Linked DNA regions of Homo sapiens: region 2 is linked to region 1. The links come from fine-mapping of genetic effects on gene expression. A gene starts in region 1. The other region holds a variant in brackets. All regions are shown on one strand. Distances are from middle to middle. Region 1 holds the start of SLC68A1 (solute carrier family 68 member 1). Region 2 overlaps ACTR1A (actin related protein 1A).

The links. PIP is the estimated chance that this variant, and not a neighbour inherited with it, causes the effect.
Region 2: its variant is the best candidate, but not a certain one, in a credible set for the expression of SLC68A1 in whole blood (TOPMed, PIP 0.56).

The regions. Positions count from the first base shown.
Region 1 is chr10:102,459,054-102,463,436 of GRCh38, reverse strand. SLC68A1 (solute carrier family 68 member 1) reads right to left here and starts at 2,042. Exons shown (of 10, transcript NM_024789.4): 1 at 1,987-2,042. It overlaps LOC124902493 (a long non-coding RNA gene), which reads left to right. Exons shown (of 3, transcript XR_007062270.1): 3 at 1,377-2,644. RefSeq lists enhancers at 960-1,642, 1,643-2,326, 2,454-2,523 and a silencer at 1,964-2,183.
Region 2 is chr10:102,490,804-102,495,186 of GRCh38, reverse strand. The region is part of intron 1 of ACTR1A (actin related protein 1A); the gene reads left to right. Among named protein-coding and RNA genes, the nearest start is that of ACTR1A, 9.7 kb to the left of the region's middle. The variant C/A (reference allele first, on the strand shown) is at 2,642.

The sequences.
Region 1 (4,383 bases):
CACTTGGGGAGGCCGACGCGGGCGAATCACGAGGTCAGGAGATCGAGATCATCCTGGCTAACACGATGAAACCTCCTCTCTACTAAAAATACAAAAATTAGCCAGGCGTGGTGGCGGGCACGCCTGTAGTACCAGCTTACTCGGGAGGCTGAGGCAGAATAGCGTGAACCCGGGAGGAGGAGCTTGCAGTGAGCCGAAATCGCGCCACTGCACTCCAGCCTGGAGGACAGAGTGAGACTCCGTCTCTTAAAAAAAAAAAAAAAAAAAGCAGGGCTGGGTTAGTCCCGCCCTTGATCCCTGCCCTTTGCCTCCACCAGGCTCCCTCAGCTTGCTCAGTCAATCCCTGCTGGGTCGATTGGCCCCTAAAAGGTCAATATCAACAACATCCTCAGCCCTAGGGAACAGCAGCAGCAGTCATAGGAAAACTGTCATCTTCAGACCCCACTGTGCCCCTCCTAGCTCTGTGTTCTGCTTAACTGTGGGAGTCAGAGAGAAGGGGCAGCCTGGGAGGCTTGATGTGCCTCTCTGAGTAAGACACTAAAGCAAGGCAGCAGGTACAAAGAAGAATAGTGATCATAACAGAGGAACATTTATTAAGCTTTCGCCGGGTGCACAGCACTGTGCTAAGAGACACAGAAACAATCTGGGAAGAGAGCTCAGAGCAGCGCGGGAGAAAGGGGCCACATCAGGAAGGGTTTTGTAAACCTTGTGCAAGATTCTATGCTGAGGACAACAGGTGGGGCGCTGGGGGTGGGGAAGTGACAGATCTGTTTGGAAGAAGCCCTCTAGCAGGTGTCAAAACTCTTCCCCTTCACCCTACCAGGCCCCTGGTAGGTAAAGACTAGAAAGGGATGGAAGCAGCAACATCTCCCTGATTTCTGAACCAACCTATGGTGGGTGGGGGAGGTTGATGAATTTAGTGGCGGAAACCAAGAATGCCGAACTGGGCCCCTGGAGTGAGAGGTATCAGACTGTACAAGAGACATTAGTGCAGAGGTAAAAGCTAAGAAGAGGCATAATTTGGAGTCAGGAGCCCTGGGTCAGGTGTGAACATTATCTTTAACTTACTATCTGAGTCTATTCCTACATCTGTGAAGCAGAGAAAACAATTCCATTCTCTGCCTATCCTCAGGAATACCAAATGAACAAATGAACATGAAAGGTATAATATGTGCCCTTTTCTCAACAGGCAGCTGACCCCTGAATTGTCTGCTGTGTTTCCTGTTTCACTCTCGGGGTCTTGTCTTCCTGCCCAGTCTCCCCACAGCAGGGTCTAGCACCAGGGTTGGGGGGTGGGGGCCCATCCTCCTCCTCCGGCTGGAAATGAGCTTTCAACTTGTTGAGATGGGGACCTTCTCCCTCTCCCTCCCCCACAGGTCCCAGAAGAGGCGACAGCTTCACCTCAGGACCACCCACCCCTCCCAAGCCACTGAGGAGTTTGGGATCAGCCCAGGAGCTCTTCACTCAATAGCTGGTGCTGAAACACGTGTAGGGCTGCTCCCCACCGCCTGCACGTTAAAATCACCTGAGGAGCTGTGCAATAATACCGAGGCCCAGGCCTCACCCAGAACAGTTAAATCGGAATCTCTTCGGGCGGGCCCAGCATCGGTGTTTTTCAAAGCTCCCCAAGTGCCACCAGGGTTAAATGCCTTTATGCTAATGGCACGGATCCCGACCTGACCAGTGCATCCCTCGATCCCAGACCACCAGGGAGCTATTTGACCCACTGCATCCCTTTCCTCCAGACCCCCGGAGAGCCTTTCTGCGAGGATTCCACCCTTGCCCCCTTGAACCCCGCTTCTTCCGCCCGGACCACACAACTCTCCCAATCCACAATATGATCACCCCAAAGACCCCCGCAGATAGCCCCCATGACTCCCAGAGCGCAAAGCATTCCCCTCCCCCTCGGGTCTGTCGTTTGTGCCAGATCGGCCCCAGCCCAGCCCGCTCCTGCCCGCGAGCCCCGGCCGCTGGCCAGCGTCTCACCGCAATCGTAGCCGGCGAAGCCTAATCCCACGGCTGGCGGGAGCCAGGTGCGAGCCAATGCGCCTGCGCGCACTTCTAGGGCTTCCCCAGCCTCTCCCTCCGCCCCCGCCCAGCGATTGGCTCCGCGCGGCCCCCGGGCGCAGCTCCGGCAGGTGACTGCGCCTGAGGCTGCCGCCGCCATGTTTGTCACGGGCGCTTGCCCTTAGCGACCAAAATTAAAAGCGGACACTGGCAAATAGGGTCAGGTTGCCTGGATTCCTGACCGGCTCAACCCCTCTCCTTTACCTCCACGATAGCTTAATGTCATTTCAGTTGAAACCAACACGTTTTTTCTAAGCGCTCACCTTCCTTCCCTCCTTGCCTAGTACTCGTTGGGAGAACAAAGAGAGGTCAGCATCCTCCATTGAGTCTTGTGGTCTGAGCGGATGCACAGCTGCAGCCGACTTGGAGGTGTCAGCGGCTCGATCTGGGACTCCCTGATGCTGCATCATGAGCCCTTCAAGGGTGGACAGGTCCAGGTTGAGCTGTGGGCACCAGGGCTCTAGCCACAGGAGCCAGGGCTGAAGGTGGGAAACAGCCACCAGGGCCTGAATGAGCAACCATGCAGCACAACCTCTTTGTATTAATAACGGCAATAATAAAACCTAAGGAGTACTGAGTGCTTGCTATGTGCACCGTACTACATTCAGAACAACACGTGCATTCTCTTGTTGAGTCCTCACATCATTCCTAGGAGGTAGGCGCTTTTATCCACATTTTATATGTGAAGAAACTGCATTTCAGAGAGATTCAATGACACGCAAACAGCAAGGGCCCAGTCGAGGTGGAACCCGCTATCCTGACTCCCATAACAAGAGTCTTTCCTCTTCCCACACCTGCACAATCCCTCAAAATCAAGTTTTGTTTGGCTCAATGTAGGCTGTGGAGGATGTTTTATGTTTTCTCCCAATTGGCCTGTAAGCCTGGATAGGTTTTTGGGCAAGCAAACAGCACACATTCCAGCTCTGCCTGGTTCCCCTACCTTGGGACACAGGGCAAAAAGCCTGTGGCCTTTGCCTTATGGGGGACTTGGAACTCAACCCCTAGCTCCAACACTTCTTTGCTAAGGGACTTCTTTATTATTATTTTTTGAAACAGGGTCTTGCTCTGTTGCTCAGGCTAGAGTGCAGTGGTGGCATGATCTCAGCTCACTGTAACCTCCACCTCCCTGGCTCAGATGATCCTCTCACCTTAGCCTCCCAAGTTGCTGGGACCACCACCTCACTCCACCATGCCTGGCTAATTTCTAGAATTATTTGTAGAGATGGAGTCTCACTATGTTACCCAGGCTGGTCTTGAACTCCTGGGCTCAAGGGACCCTCCCGCTTCAGCCTCCCAAAGTGCTGGAATGATAAGCGTGAGTCACTGCACCTGGCTGGGACCCTCCTTTTGTGAGTCTGTTTTATGCTTTACAGGGATTTTTCAGACATTAAATGAGAAACAAGGGTGTAGGAGCTTTGTGAACTGCTCATCCTTATGACCTTCATTGATGGTTGTCGGCTAACTTCCTGCAACAGGAATGTTGTCCTCCTCCTAACAACCACAGCAAATGGTCCAATGTAGACGCCTAGTGTCCAGGGGCTACAGATTATTCAACCAGTTCCTGAGGAGCCCCCAGGGATGCCATGAACCTTGCCCCCAGAATCCATCTCCCACTAACCTGTCTCATTTCCCTCCTTCCCAATCTCTCTCTTTCGGACACCCTTCACACTTCCCATGTCACCCCAAGCCACACATACACGCACACACATACATACAACCATCTCTCTTCTAGACTTAGACAACTGCTGAAACTCCTCCTGATCCAGAAAGCCTCATGAGTAGAAGACAGGTGATCATTTTGTCCCTCTCCTCACCTCTTACCTCCATCTGTGCTTTCCTGGCTGTGAGAACAGAAAACCCAGCATTCAGCCTGGGGTCCGGCACACTGGGATCTCCATACATTTGCTAAAGGAGTCTCCCCGCCTTTCTATCTGTGGCCAGCATGTGCTTTTATTTCAAAGCAAACCCGAGTCTTTACTTAGCCCTCCCTGGGTATCCAGTGGGGAAATGGAAATGGGGAGGGCTGGCAGGGGCCAGAGCTGGATGTGACCCAGGAGAAAAGACCTTTGGTCCCTCACAGCCAGGCAAGGTGGCTCACACCTGTAATCCCAGCACTTTGGGAGGCTGAGGTGGTTGGATCACGAGGTCAGGAGATCGAGACCATCCTGGCCAACATAGTGAAACCCCATCTCTACTAAAATACTAAAATTAGCTGGGCGTGGTAGCGTGTGCCTGTAATCCCAGCTACTCAGGAGGCTGAGGGAGGAGAACTGCTTGATCCAGGGAATCGGAATTTGCAGTGAGCCAAGATTGCAC
Region 2 (4,383 bases), 32 kb before region 1:
CTTGGGCTCAGCCTCCCAAGTAGCAAGGACTATGGACCCGCACCACCACACCCGAGTAATTTTTAAATATTTTGTAGGCCTGGTGTGGTGGCACATGCCTGTAATCCTAGCACTTTGGGAGGCCAAGGCGGGTGGATCACTTGAGATCAGGAGTTCGAGACCAGCCTGGCCAACATGGTGAAACCCCCTCTACACTAAAAATACAAAAATTAGCCGGGCGTGGTGGCGCACACCTGTAACAACAACTACTCAGGAGTCTGAGACAGGACTATCGCTTAAATCCAGGAGGCGGAGGTTACAGTGAGCCGAGATTGTGCCACCGCACTCTAGGTGGGTGACAGAGCCAGACTCCATCTCAAAAAAATTAAAATTAAAATTAAAATTAATATTTTGTAGAGACAGCGTTTTGCCATGTTGCCCAGGCTGGTCTCTCGAACTCTTGGCCTCAAGCAATCCTCCCTCATCTGCCTTCCAAAGTGATGGGGTGACAGGCGTGGGCCACCGCACCCAGCCATACTTTTTGTTTGTTTGGTTGGTTGGTTGGTTGGTTTTGAGACAGGGTCTTATCTTACTCTGTCATCCAGCCTGGAGTGCAGCAGTGCAATTACAGCTTGCTGCAGCCTTGACCTCCCAGACTCAAGTGATCCTCCAACCTCAGCCTCCTGAGTAGCTGGGACCACAGGCACACAACCACCATGCCCAGCTAATTTTTGTATTTTTGTAGAGACGGGGTTTCGCCATGTGCAGGCTGGTCTCGACCTCCCGGGCTCAGGCAGTCTTCCTAGCTCAGCCTCCCAAGTAGCTAGGAGTACAGGCACACATCACCATGCCTGGCTAACTTTTTGGTATTTTTTGTAGTGATGGGGTTTCTCCATTTTGGCCAGGCTGGTCTCAAACTCCTGGCCTCAAAGTGATTTGCGTGCCTCGGCCTTCCTAAGTGCTTGGATTATAGGCATGAGTTACCACACCCAGCCAAGACTACTCAAGAAGCCTCTACCAGGCATTTTTTCATTTGGCCTTGCCAGAGTGAATAACAAAGACAGTGGCAGCTTATTTGCCAGGTACACAGTTCCTAGTTGTAAATACTGTTAAAGAAATGGACATAACCCTTTTGTATGCTCTTGAGCAGAATTTGTGTGGCTTGAGCAGAATTGAGGCAGCTCAGCTGCTCCTCATTCTCCACTGATTCTTCACCCTATGACTGGCATGGCAGGCCTGCTTGGGGGCTGCAAGGACACGCTGGGTCTGGTTCCACCTTGTGCATCACTCCCAGTGCTGCTTTCCCCTTTGCTGAACCGCCTCTGCCTGGGGCTTCTGTCATTTCAGCTGGTCATTCAGGTTCCATACTTTAGGTTCTATCTGCCAGTCATTTGCACTTGATTTTAATTTTACTCAGCCAGCATCTGTTGAGTACCCAGCAAATGCCAGATACTGCCAAAATGTATTTTAGCCTTAAGGAACTTCAACTGAAAAGAGACGAAAGTGGAAACCTTACATTGTAATAAAAAGCAGAATGAAGTGCATGCCACCTCGTGGTACAGGTAATGGAAATTTGCTGTGAGATAATAGGAAGATGATCATTCATTCCAACTGGGGATGTTTCTTCAGGAGGAAGGTGATGATATTTGAACTGGGCTTTTTATACTCTTTGCTAGGAAGGACAGAGAAGAAAAAACAAATCTGACTTCATAATCTGCCTGTTTACCCAGACTCTAGTCCTTTTGCTAGTAAACTAAAAATAAAATACCCAGGAAAATCATCTCTTAAAAATATCCAGGGTCTGAAGGACAGATCTCATCCTCTCTTGTTTTTAACCTCTGCCGGGAGACCCAATTAGTCTGTTGGCATCACCACACCCAGATGAAGGCAGTGAGCAATCATTGGAAGCCTGAGCAAACAAGTTCTAGGAGTTCCCCCCTTGCCTGTCCGTGCCTTGCTCTCAGAGCCCTTGGGTTTGTAGGCAAATTGCCCCTCCTTCCCAGTCTTTCAGCTCACTTGACAGCTGCACCTTTTCCAGGCTCCTTGTTGTACTGCCCAGTCCAATGAGTTTGCACATTGTCTTCTGTTTTCACTCTCTTCTGTTGGCAAAGATTCCTGCTCCCTTAGAGAACTGGCTGCCCTGCTCTCCTCTCATACCACTTTCTCTGCCCTTCAACCACTTCTTTTTTTTTTTTTTTTTTTTTTTGAGGTGGAGTCTCACTCTGTCTCCCTGGCTAGAGTGCAGTGGTGCGATCTTGGCTCACTGCAACCTCCACCTCCTGGGTTCAAGTGATTCTCCTGCCTCAGCCTCCCTGAGTAGCTGGGATTACAGACGTGTAGCACACCTGGCTAATTTTTGTATTTGTAGTAAAGACAGTGTTTTGCCATGTTGGCCAGGCTGGCCTTGAACTCCCTGGCCTCATGTGATCTGCCCCGCTTCGGCCTCCCACAGTGCTGGGATTACAGGCGTGAGCCACCACACCTGGCTTCCTTCAACCACTTGCTTCCTCCACCAACCTCTGTCTTGCCAAAGGCAAGCACCAGATGGCCAGTCTCACTCCCCCTCTTCCTGCAGAAGAGCAGGAATAAGAGAGTCAAGGAGGGAAGCAGGCATGTTGCTGGGAAGCCTTTGGTGCAGATAACCTTGGCTACTTAGAGTCTC[C/A]AGGTGTGTTCAGTGCTTGTAGAATGAGGTCAGTAAATACCACACTCCACCCCAGGAGAGTGGTCAACAGGCAGCAGGAAAAGGCTTGCCCCAGCTACGGGTGCAGCTGCAAACCATGTTGGGTTAGAAAGGTGAGGGTATCAGGTGTGGTGGTAGAAGAGTTAAGAAGGAAGAAGAGGCCAGGCGCGGTGGTTCATGCCTGTAATCCCAGCACTTTGGGAGGCCGAGGCAGGTGGATCACAAGGTCAGGAGTTCGAGACCAGCCTGACCAACACGGTGAACCCTCATCTCCACTAAAAATACAAAAATTAGCCAGGCATGGTGGTGCGCGCCTGTAATCCCAGCTATTCAGGAGGCTGAGGCAGGAGAATCGCTTGAACCCAGGAGGTGGAGGTTGCAGTGAGCTGAGATTGTGCCACCACACTCCAGCCTGGGTGACAGACCGAGATTCTGTCTCAAAAAAAAAAAAAAAAAAAGGCCGGGCACGGTGGGCTCACGCCTATAATCCCAGCACTTTGGGAGGCCAAGGCGGGCGGATCACGAGGTCAGGAGATCGAGATCATCCTGGCTAACACGGTGAAACCCTGTCTCTACTAAAAAAAAAAAAAAAAAATTAGCCAGGCATGCTGGTGGGCACCTGTAGTCCCAGCTACTCAGGAGGCTGAGGCAGGAGAATGGCATGAACCTGGGAGGCAGAGCTTGCAGTGAGCCCAGATTGCACCACTGCACTCCAGCCTGGGCGACAGAGCGAGACTCCATCTCAAAAAAAAGGAAGAGGACAGGGTGTATCTACAAGCAATACTAAGCCTTGACATCTGTCCTGCACAGGGTTGGTCTCTGTGTCCAGAGTCACTGTTTACATTGATTGGGCCCTGGGTGGTACCTGAGATGCTGGGAGAACTCAGATTCTTTTCTGGACACCTCACTCGACATACCAAGTGTTGGAGCAGCAGGACTGTGGTTCTCTTCTATTCTCAGAGTAGGCTTTAGTCTTTGCTTCTCTTTACCATCAGGAGACCAAGGAGTAAAAGGAAAGCATAGTTAAAAAGAAAACAACAACAAAAATCTCCCAAAGCATCGTGCTCTGCCCTTGCAATAAGAACCAGACAGCACGTGTTCCATGGGAGTCCATTTCAAGCATGACAGTGCTCATGGCGGTGTCTGTCACAGAGGCCCTGGAAGCTGGGAGAGTTCAGGCCTGAGCTGGGAAAGTAGGTTAAAAGCACCCCAGGGTGGCGTAACAAGGAGTCATGTGCTTTTCCTACCTTATGTTCCTGAACTTGGCTGCTTTGATGCTTCTAGGTACTTTCTTCTTTCCCCAGGTTTTCTGTCTTTTTCTTCCCTTTATTACTAGTATTTTTAATTCCCAAAGCAAAACATGTTCAATGTAGAAAAGTCAGAGACTACAGAAAAATCACACATACGGTTGTGTATACAGTGAGAATCCTCCTCACCATCCTATTTCCACTTCCCTTCTTTTGGTGTGCATTTACCTTTTTCTAGGTTCAAATAAATGTATATATTATATACAAATATTAGTTTTGTTTTTTTTTTCCTGTGAGACAGAGTCTGTCACCCAGGCTGGAGTGCAGTGGCACAATCTTGGCTCACTGCAACCTCTGCCTCCCAGATTCAAGTGATTCTCCCACCTCAGCCTCCCAAGTAGCTGGAACTACAGGTGCCTGCCAACATGCCCAGCTAATTGTTGCATTTTTACTAGAGACAGGCTTTCACCATGGTGG